Regions from separate parts of the Homo sapiens genome. Here region 1 is linked to region 2. The links come from fine-mapping of genetic effects on gene expression. A gene starts in region 2. The other region holds a variant in brackets. All regions are shown on one strand. Distances are between the middles of the regions. Region 1 overlaps TM9SF4 (transmembrane 9 superfamily member 4). Region 2 holds the start of POFUT1 (protein O-fucosyltransferase 1).

Region 1 (5,370 bases), 67 kb after region 2:
AAGCGTCACACATGCAAACGTAGAACTGCGCTCGGGAAGCTCCCAGGGGAGATGTGCTATGGAGCTCTTGAAGGGCAGGATCTATGTTTGGGACTTCTGTGTCTAATTTTGTTTGAACACTAAGTTCCACAGTGGAAAAAAAAAAAAAGTCCAAATACCACCAACATGGTCAAAATCCTGGGCATGCTGCTTAATTAAAAAGCACACTGTGATGATCAAGGGCCAAGAGGTGAGGCAAAGCCGGACCAGCTCCTGTGAGGCCCATCAGGACTGTGCTGGACTCTCAAACTCCCGCACACCTGTTGACCCTGGGCAAATTTTAGTTTATGCCAATCACTCACACAGCGGGAGAGGAACGAAGAAACCTGCTGCCTACAGGCTTTGTCTGTACCCTGGCCCCTTGTTCTCAACCCAGGGTGAGCTGGCTGGTTCTTGTGAGGAGGCCCAACAAAGCCCCAACTTGCTGTTTGGTCTTGGCCAAGTCACTAGCTCCTTTTGAGCCTCTAGTTCTTCCTTTGTAATCATCACGTACCTCCTGGGGTTGCTGGGAAGGGGTAAACTAGTAAGGTGTCTAGCCCGTGACACTGCAGCTGTCAGCTGCCCCCACACCCCGTCTTCTCTAATGAGAATACCATGATCCTACCTTGGCTGGGCCCACACGCCACACCCGAGCCCATCGGCCAGCTCAGGAGGGAGAAGAGTGCGAAGACCCTGCGTGGAGAAGCCCAGGCCCATCCAGCCCTGCCCCTCCGGCCACACCTCCCCACTCACCCTCCAGCCTGATGCTCTGGGGAATCACCTCGAAGCGGACGACACGGTACGTGTGCTCCTGGTCCTCTTCCATGTCCTCCCGATGATAGTAAAGGATGAATGAGAGGTGGTTGTGCAGGTAGATCTGAAACACAGCAACAGAGAAAGCACAACAGAACATCACTTAGGGATACTCTCCAGGTATTAGGGCCCTTGCCTCACCCAGCATGCCTGGTTGTACCAACCTTCCTAAAACACTGTTCTCATCACTCCCCTACTCAGAAGCTCTTCAAGGGCTCCCTGCAGCTTATCAGACAAAAGCCCATTTCTCAAAGTCTGGCATTCAAGGCCTTCTATCATCTGACCCTGATACAACTGGGTGTAATCATCTAAGTCACATGAGTTCACCTAGACTCCCCTGTGCCCACCGCCCCATGAACCAGTCTCTACCCTGCAATCACTCCAACTAGAATGCCACCCCCAACTCCACTCAGCAAAAGCCCACCAACTTCTCATGGCCCACCTCCTCTGTGACAACCTGAGTGTAAAAGGAGCTCCCTCTGACCTCGCCTGCAATTAATGGCCAGTGAAAGGCAGCTGGGACTGGAGACTTAGAGCCTCCCACTGTCGGTTCTCTTCCCAGTTAGGACAGACGCCCTTTGGGGACAGGGGCTGCACCTCAAAACACATACTTTTGTAATTTATTCCCTAACTAATATCTTTCAGTTTAGAAAGAAAGATAAGAGAATCAGGGCTATAATCATCACATTATTAGCTGATTCTCCAGGGCTGTGCTGGGAAGGGCTCACACGAATGTGCTAATTTACCCCGCCACTGCTGCTGCATACATTTTACAGCTAAGGAACCACAGGCTCAGGGTCACTTAGACAACTAGTAACTGGGAGAGGAAGGATTCAAACCCAGGGAGCCTGCACGCTCTTGACCACTACTTAGCCCTCTCTCCTACATACTGATGAAGTTCCACGGTTTTTTTTTTTATGTTGTTTTAATCTTACAAAAATGGAACCTAACTTCCTAAGAATTGTGGCTTCACCTCCCTGTAGCACCTCCCAGGGACTTGCCCGGAGCACTCGGACCTCTGACAGACCATCATGCCCAGGGCACCTGGAGAAACTTGCTGTGGCCGAGCCCCACCTTTTCTGTGGCCCCAAGTGCTCAGGACTCGTGAGGTGTGGCTCCCGGTCCTGTGAGCACGCCAAAGACACTCTACCTTGTTGACATCTGTGAAGCCGAGCCGGTAGCCGTGTTCAAACTGCACATCTTTTTCCTTCTTCTTGTCATCGCTGTCTCGGTTGGAGTAGAGCTCCAGCCGGGTGGCCACAGGCAGGTTGTCAGCAATGCTGGAAAGTGAAGGCCCCACTCAGTCCCTCTCGACCGCCTCTCCCGTCAGTGTCCTCCCCTGTGTGAGCCTGAGGCAGCAAGGAGCACAGGGCGACTTACAGGTGGACGTAGTAGTCTTCTGTGATCCGCTCGGCCACGAGTCGGCTCTGCTCCACTGTCAGGGTCACTGGCTTGTTGGACTGGCTGCACAGAACTTCACACTTCTTCTCGCTGTTCATGAGAACCTGGAAAGGGGTGTTGACAATCCGGTCCCCTCTCAGCACCTCTCCTGCCGTAAGAGAGACAGATCAAGCTCAGAGCTTCAGCCCTGAGGTTGCTGAGGTCAGCAGAGTCACAGAGACACAGGACTGCGGGGCAAACATGGGCTTTCAAGGACTTCAGCAGTGCCTCAGCCTGGCAGCCAATGCCCTTCCCATTGCTTCACGCCCAACGGTCCCAGCTAACCTCGACCTGCCACCCTCCTCCTTTGGGCTCTAGTGCTACCAGACCCCTTAGCACTCAGCACTCATCAAGCATCACATCCTTTTTTTTTTTTTTTTTTTTTTTTTGAGATGGAGTCTCGCTCTGTCACCCAGGCTGGAGTGCAGTGGCACGATCTC[A/G]GCTCACTGTGAACTCTGCCTCCTGGGTTCAGGCCATTCTCCTGCCTCAGCCTCCCGAGTAGTTGGGACTACAGGTGCATGCCACCACGCCCGGCTAATTTTTTGTATTTTTAGTAGAGACGGGGTTTCACCCTGTTAGCCAGGATGGTCTCGATATCCTGACCTCATGATCTGCCCATCTCAGCCTCCCAAAGTGCTAGATTACAGGTGTGAGCCACCGCGCCCAGCCAAGCATCACATCCTTCTATGCCTCTGGGCCTCAGTCGCTTCCTTCTCCTAGAGTTCCCTGCCCCATGCTCCTGGCCTCCCCAGAAGCCCAGTTTCCATTTCACTCTCTCTGGGAAGCCCTCCCTAACCCCTTCAGGACAAGCCCATCACTCCCTCCCCTGACTGCCCTGTGTGAGGGCAGCATTATGCAGTGGAGGGATGACTCTGACTCTCGGCTGCCTGCCTTAGCAGTCTTGGTAAGTCACTCCATCTCACTGAGCCTCAATGTCCTCATCCATAAAATGGGATAATAACAGTATCCACCTCACAGGGTTACAGTGAGAAATAAAGGAAGTCAATCCAATAAAGTAGCAGGCACAGAGTAGGCAGGCATCAAACGCTCTTTTATCATCAGCATCCGTTCCTATGTCAAGGATTTACTTTGCACAATGTGCTGATACAGTCATGTTTCTGGCTCCCCTACCTGACTATGAGCTCGTTACTGTTAAGACTGTTTCCTATTTATCTCTGTGTCTTCAGATCCTGGTTCCAGCAGGGAGGGGAGTGGGGTGAAATCCAGCACCTGAGATTTTCAGGCAAAACGTCTTTTGACTCAATGAAGTGGCACCCCTTGTGTGCCTTTTGCCTCAGAGTAACTGCTGCCAGATGTCACCCTAACAGGCACTGAGCAGTTAGGGACTATCAAGCAAACCCCATGGTGCTTTCATTCTGAGCTGTTCAACAATTGATGGACAAGATGAAGACTAATTAACACCTCCACATGCACTTGGTCTCGCACTTTTCCTCCAGTGTGGATCTGCTCGACAGGGCACTCTCCCTAGTCATCTAGTCATTCATTCATTCATCCGTGAACATGTACTGGGTACTGGCTACATGCCAAGCCCTAAAGATGCAAAGTTGAATAGATGTACTCATAGAGTGCATGGCCTAGCAGGAAGATAGACTTTGCTGAATAATCAGCAAAATGAGAATATATAACTTGCTGCAGACACAGGGGAGTGGGTCTAGGACAGCTTCCCTGAGGAAGGGGTACTTGAAAGGAAGAGAGATGTTAACTGAGCAAAGAAATAGGAGAATATTCCAGACAGGACAGCATGTGCAAAGGCCCCTTTGGGGTGGGGGAGGCACTGAACCTGAAAGGCCTGTGTGGCTACAGTGCAGAAGGCTCAGATGAGCTGCAGAGATGGGCCAGTACTCAGGGGGCCTGTGGGACACACAGTTTGATCTTGACCAGTTTGACCTAGAAAGCAACAAAATCCAATGAAGGTTTCTAACAGGGGTAGAGAAAGACGTTATCTGAGTCTGGTTCCAGAAAGATCATTCTGGCTGTTTTGTGAAGAAAACAGAGGATGCAAGGAACTGGCGGTGAGCAGTGGTGGTGGTGGGGGGCAGTGATGGCAGTCAGTCATGCATGAGTGACACCGGTGACTGGAACAGGTGCTGGTGAGGGTAGAGAAGAGTACACAGATTCAGGAGCTCCAAGGAGGTGAAATCCAGGGGAAGCAGTGCTGACTGTAAACAAGGCATGAGTGAGGGATGGTGCATATTAGGAAGACTCTGAGGTTTCTACAACCAGGTTCTAGGTGGGAAAATAGGAAGAACAGCAAATTTACATCGAAGGCATTTTCAGTTTGGATATATCAAGTGGGCACTTAGATATCAAGATCTGAGGCGCAGAGGAGAGGTCAGGGCACAGATGGAAGTTGGGGGTTATCGGCCCACAGATGGTAAATGGCAGGGCCGCGAGCTACACCGCTGTAGGCGCCAGCACTCTGCTGTGCAAAGTAGCGGCCCTGGCAAGCAATGCTTTCAGTGTGGAGGAGGCACTCAGGAGAGGGAGAGATTGAGGAAGGGCATGGATGAAGGCCTCACCCCTCCACCCTGTTTTGGAAGGCTGGCAATGCAGGTGAGTCTGCAAAACCCAGGGATGGATTGGCCAGTGAAGAGCGAGGACACAGTAAGATATCTGCAGAGCCCACTGCTGAAATGGCATTTTATAGATGACAAGCTGAGGATCAGAGACCTGCTCGTGGTGATATGAGGGGGTGGTGGTAATGCTAAATCCCTGGCCTCTTTCCTCTATACCATTTCCTACTGCCTATTTCATCTCCTGTCAATGAGGATCTTGCTTGAGGAGAGAAAGAGCTACAGAGAGGAACAGGGCTGCAGACCAAGTACAGTGGAATCGCTTCTTGATATTTAAAAATTAAGTTTAGCCAAGAAAGGGGACATAATGGTCAGGAAATGGCTCATTTCTATTTCTTGTTTTTGTTTTGTTTTTGAGATAGAGTCTTGCTCTGTTGCTCAGGCTGGAGCGCAATGGCGCAATCTCAGCTCACTGCAACCTCTGCCTCCTGGGTTGAAGCGATCCTCCTGCCTTAGCCTCCCAAGTAGCTGGGATAACAGGCGTGCACCACCATGCCTGGCTAAT
Region 2 (5,370 bases):
ACCTGGGTTGTGGCCTTGGACATGTCATTAAATAACCTGTGCCTGCATGTCTCCTTTAAAATTGATAATAGCATCTGCCACCCTTGGCCAATGGAATGCACAGAGGGTAGGACCAATCAGGGAAGGAAATGGAGGCTTTAGGTTCAAGTCACAGGCTCTGGAGTCAGACAAAGATAGCTTTGAATTCCAGCTCTCCTACTCACAGGCTGTGTGATCTTGGGCAAGTTACCTAACCTCTGTAAACCCCGGTTTCCTCACAGGCAAGTGATGAGGGTGAAATGAGCTAATTCTCATGCAGCCGCACACAACAGGTGCTGGATAAATAAATGTTAGGCATTGTTATTGCAGTGAAGACAGTTCTGGCTGGAGGTAGGGAAATCTCAGAGGAGTGGGAGGTAAAGCCCAGAGGACTTGAGGGTTAAGTGTAAGTAAGCAAGACTGAGAAAGGGCGGAGAAAGGCCAAGGTCAGTGGGAAGTACTCACGTTGGTGAAAGGAGGCTTGTGATGCTGGTACTCAATCCAAGGAGGGACAGCCAAGGTACGGTTTAGCAGCTTTGCAAATGCCAGAGAGCCCAAGAAGTGATCGGCCTGGTTCCCAAAGCGCCCTGGAAATGGTACATTGCGGGTGAGGTGAGGCCTGGGGCATGGAGGGCATAGAGCATGCAGGGCTCAGAAAGGTTGTGGAGCCAGGGGTAGAAAGTCAGGGATACCAAGGAGAACTAGGGGAGCTGGCAGCATAAGAACAAGTCTGGACTCTTGGGTCTGATATCCAAGGCTCTTCAGGTCCTGCAACAACTGCTTCCGCCACTCCAGGTTTCTTGCTGTTTCCCCAACATGCTCTACAATTCCCATCCCCACCCAATGCCTCTGATCTTGCTGTCCCTCAGCCAGAAGAGCTTCTACCTCTATCTCCATTCACCTGCACATGGACGGGCAACTCGAATGCCTCATTCACTGGGCTCCTTTCACCAATCCCCTGCCATACTCACTCTCCCTCCTTTACCTCCCACCTTGGCTCTGAGCTACTTCAGTTCTTCAATTTTCCTCAAGTATCTTTGCTCACTTCCTGGCCTTCGTACTGGCTGATTCCTCAGCCTGTGAATGCCTCAGAAGCAAGGACCCTGTGTGATTCCTTTTCTTAATCCCAGCATGGCACCTGTTCATTCATTTCACAAATATGATTGAGAGGCCACAATGTGCCAGACTCTGTGCTAGGTGCTGGGATACAGGAATGAACAAGAAGGACAAGGCCTCTGCCCCTAAGGCACTCACAGTTCACTGCAGAGACACTAAACATGTAAACAAATACATGAAAAATGTTGATAATTGCCAGAAAGAGATGAAAAAAGTTTGGTGATAGGGTAATGAGGAGATTACTTGGGTAGAGGTCAGTGAAATCCTTTCTGGTGACATTTAGGCTGAGATCTAAAGGATGGGAAACAGCTGGTCAGGCAGAAATGGAGGAGAGGATTCCAGGCATAGGGACCGCCACCTGCAGCAGTGCAGACTGGAAGACCTGAGCATGTGTGAGGAACGCAAAGGAGTTAAGTGTGGCTGCAGCTGGAGGATCAGCAGAGAAGGGAGTTGTGGAGATGGCCAGTGGAGGCCACATCATTCAGGGCCCTGAAAGTCATGGTCAGGAGTCTGGAAGCCACTGGGGGCCTTAAGATCATCCACTTCCACAATGATGATCCACCATACCCATTTCAACTGTGCACCTGGCATGGTCTTTAGATTCTCCCCTACCCTGCTCTCTTTATTTTCCCTTAGTATTCATCATCCTCTATGAAACTATGTATTTATTGTTTTATGTTTACCCCTTTTTGGGTTTGCTTGTTTCGAGACAGGGTCTCACTCTGTCACCCAGGCTGGCAGTGCGGTGGCACGATCAGAGCTCACTGCAGCCTCGAATTCCTCGGCTCAAGAGATCCTCCCACCTCAGCCTCCCAAGTAGCCGCCCAGATAACTCCCAAGGGACTACAAGCACACGATACCACGCTCTGCTTTTTTTTTTTTTTTTTTTTTTTGAGATTGGATTTTCACTATGTTGCCTAGGCTGATCTCGAGCTCCTGGCTTCAAGTGATCCTGCCTCGGTCTCTCAAAGTGGTGGGATTACAGAAGTGAGCCACCGCGCCTGGCCTACTTATTCTCAATTGTTTGTCTTCCCCAACTAAAATGAAGGCTCTACAAGGACACGGAGTTTATCTTATTCACTGCGGTATTCCCAGTACAGAGAACAGGGCCCGGCACAGAATAGGTGCCCCATAAATATTTGCTGAATCAATGAAAAATCACCAGGAGCCAGCGTGGGTCAGTGACATCAAGTCCTGCCCCACTAACTCCATTTACTGGACCCTGGACTGGCTTAGACCTCAAGCAAGTCACGTAACCTCTCCCAGCCTCAGTTTTCTCATCTGTCAAATGGAAAGTTGGACACGTTGGCCCCTCTGTGCCCTTGCAACTAAGGCAGAGAGGAGAAGAGCATGCCCCGTCCCGCTCTGAGGTTCTCTCCTGGACCTGTGAAGGTGTCTCTGGGCGCATCTGAGGAGTGGCTTTTCCTCTCCCGGCCTCAGTTTCTCCATCTGAGCAGAGGGCTTGGGAGGCCTTACCCATGCAGGGGCAGTAGAGCAGGTAACCGGCCGGGTCCCAGGAGCCCGCAGGCATCCCCGGGAGCGGCAGAAGCAGCAGCAGGAAAGACACGCTCAGCGGCCGTGCCCACGCGGCGGCGCCCATGTCGGCCCGGGAACCCGAGCCAGCCGCGGCGCACAGTCGGGGAGGGAAGGAGGGACGCGAGCGCCCGCCCCGCTCCCAGCGGTCCCTGCGCGCCGCCCGCGCACCGCCCCGGCCGCTCTAGCCCGCGGGCGGGCGGGACCATAGAGATCCCGCGGCACCGCCCCCTCCACGACCCGAGCGCCCGCTCGCGCGGCTCCCACAATGCACCGCACAATGGCCCGACCGCCGCCACTACCGGGGCCTGAGGGGGCCTGGCGGAGCCCGAGCGCGGCCCGGCCCGCAGCGTGGGGCCCCGAGCGCGGTGAGTGCCGGCGAGGGCCCCAGGGGACGGCGGGGAGAGGGGCGGGAGGCCGTCTCGCTGCGTCCGCGCGCCCTGTACCCGGAGCGGCGGCGCGCCTCATCTCGGGCCCCTCAGCGCGGTCGCCCACACCCCCGACCCGGGGCCCGGTCTGCGCCAACCCGGCCCCAGATAGGCCCTGGGGTGACGAAAACTCTCCCTGGACCCCATACCTGTGTCTGGGGGACCCGAGGAAGCCACCGGTCCCCTCCCTTCCGAGACCTGGAGACGCAGTCCTGAGGGTCCCCCATTCCCGACCCCTAGGCTCCCTGGAGACCCAGATAAGGCGCTGCTGACCTTACCAGGGACCCGGGTCTGGGGGACGCAGATAAGCTGCACCTGCTCCCTCCCTCCGACACGCCTACCCAGACCCACATAACCCCCTTTCCTGCTCCAGATAGCCCGCTCTGTACCCTGTTTCATTTTCCAGACTTACATAACTCCCTTTGAGGCTTCCCTCAAATATCTGGGTCTGGAGAAGTCGAATAAGCCCCACCTGTAGTTCCCTCCTCAGTGGCCATACTCCCAGGCTTTCGACATCTTCCATCCCGTTACCCATTTTGAGACCCTCTTGAAATTCAGAGGATACACTTCTGACTATCCCCATCCCCCCAGCCTTCCAGCCCTTATAATCCCCCATTTCATTCTTGTGGGGATCCCTTAGAGACCCAGGAAAGTTGCTCATGATTCCTTCCCATCCTCGCTCTTCCTTCCCATCCCAGAGACTCCCTCCAGACTTCTCCCTGGATTTCCTTTGCTTCTCCAGCCCTCATCCACTCCCATCTCTCCCAGGCTCGGGGAATTGAACCTTTCCCACACCACAGTGGGGTGATCTAAAAGTTGGCCTGGGACCAGGCTGTGGCCCACCTTGGTGGGGAGAAAGGGGCCTGTTAGGTGGAGGATATGGGGACACCTGTGTGGGGGAATCGGTGCTTTCACCTGCAAGCTTAGCCTGTCTCCTGGCTTGTGTGTTTTTCCACCTGTCAGCCATGGGACTGTGTGTAGAGTCTGGTCTTGGGTTTCTAACCTTTCTCTCCTAAGGTGAGGCCACCAGATTGGGAGCGGGGGTGTCGAATCACGTTTTCTCCCCATGAAAATGGGGTTGTGATGAGTTGCAGCCATTTGTTCAAGGCCTCCCCAGGAGTGGGAGGCAGCAGGAATCTGAGGAAATAGTGAATCAAAGAGACTCCAAAGAGGGCCCATCTACACTGACAGAAGAATTAGCAGCCTGAGAGTAAATCCAACCCCTGTTAATCCTGTTTGATGTTTCTTGGAATGGTGCAAGTCATTGAGACTCTCCAGCCTCCCTGTAATTTAATTCTCCCACCACTCTGGAGTGGGCGGGGGGGAAGGGGGCGACAGCATTCCCATTTCCCCTCTTCTCACTGTTTTCCAGCCAACCAGTGTGTTTTAGGATTTGTTTCTGGTTCTGAGATCAGGATCTGTTTTTTGTTTTGTTTTGTTTTGTTTTTTCTTTCCTCTAAGTCTATTTATAATTTCCCAGTTGCTATTTTGGGTTCTGCTTAAGGGAAGATTCTATCCCAAGGAACGTTCTGGGTCTATTTCCTCCGGCAGGTGTTGAATTGAGTTCTTCAGATCCCCAAGTAACTCTTGGGCAGGAGGATAAAAGCTATTTTAGGGTAGTCACTGAAGTGGAGCTGTTAATCCTCTGTGGGTCTCTTTAGTTAAGAACACTCAAAGATTAACCCTTTCCTTGTGCAGGGGTGTTATCTCTCAACTGTTTTTTAGGGGGGAGTGAGGAGAATTTGAGTGTGGCAGCAGAAGGTGGAAACATGCAACTCAATACAAAGACAAAGATAATAGCTCTCTTTTGTTGGGTACTTCTAGCAGGCCAAGCTCTGTGCTGAGCCCTTTGCATACCTCACTAAAATAATCCTTACAGCAAGCCTGTGAGGTAAGTATTTTTAGCTTTACAGATGAGGAAACAGGCTAATAATGGAGAAAGAACGCAGTTTCTATAGAGATGATGTAACACCATAAAAACTATAGTTTCATCAGAGAGCAGCAGGCATCATGGCCCATAACAGGGGACGGACAGACTGGGGAGAAATATGTCTCAGTTTCAGCTTTCAAAGAGGACCATACAGAGTTTTTAGCAAGCATTCCTGTTTGGGATATGGAGCCCTAATAATACAAGAGAGTATAGGAAAGTGGCTCTCTGCTTAAGAGAGAACTCTGGCCCAGGAGATGGTGCCTGGAGGGAGGTAAAGTAAGGGGCTCTTTAAAGGGGATGTGCCGAGGGTTAGTTGTGAGGGAAAAGGGGAAGACTGCATTCTGG

What was found. PIP is the estimated chance that this variant, and not a neighbour inherited with it, causes the effect.
Region 1: its variant is the best candidate, but not a certain one, in a credible set for the expression of POFUT1 in whole blood (INTERVAL, PIP 0.58).

The regions. Positions count from the first base shown.
Region 1 is chr20:32,138,507-32,143,876 of GRCh38, reverse strand. It overlaps TM9SF4 (transmembrane 9 superfamily member 4), which reads right to left. Exons shown (of 18, transcript NM_014742.4): 4 at 2,212-2,380; 5 at 1,982-2,111; 6 at 772-895. Among named protein-coding and RNA genes, the nearest start is that of TM9SF4, 31 kb to the right of the region's middle. The variant A/G (reference allele first, on the strand shown) is at 2,712.
Region 2 is chr20:32,205,306-32,210,675 of GRCh38, reverse strand. POFUT1 (protein O-fucosyltransferase 1) reads right to left here and starts at 2,796. Exons shown (of 7, transcript NM_015352.2): 1 at 2,611-2,796; 2 at 484-605. The coding sequence starts at 2,734. PLAGL2 (PLAG1 like zinc finger 2) reads left to right here and starts at 2,933. Exons shown (of 3, transcript NM_002657.3): 1 at 2,933-3,035. RefSeq lists enhancers at 2,457-2,586, 2,049-2,962, 4,878-4,927 and a silencer at 2,727-3,146.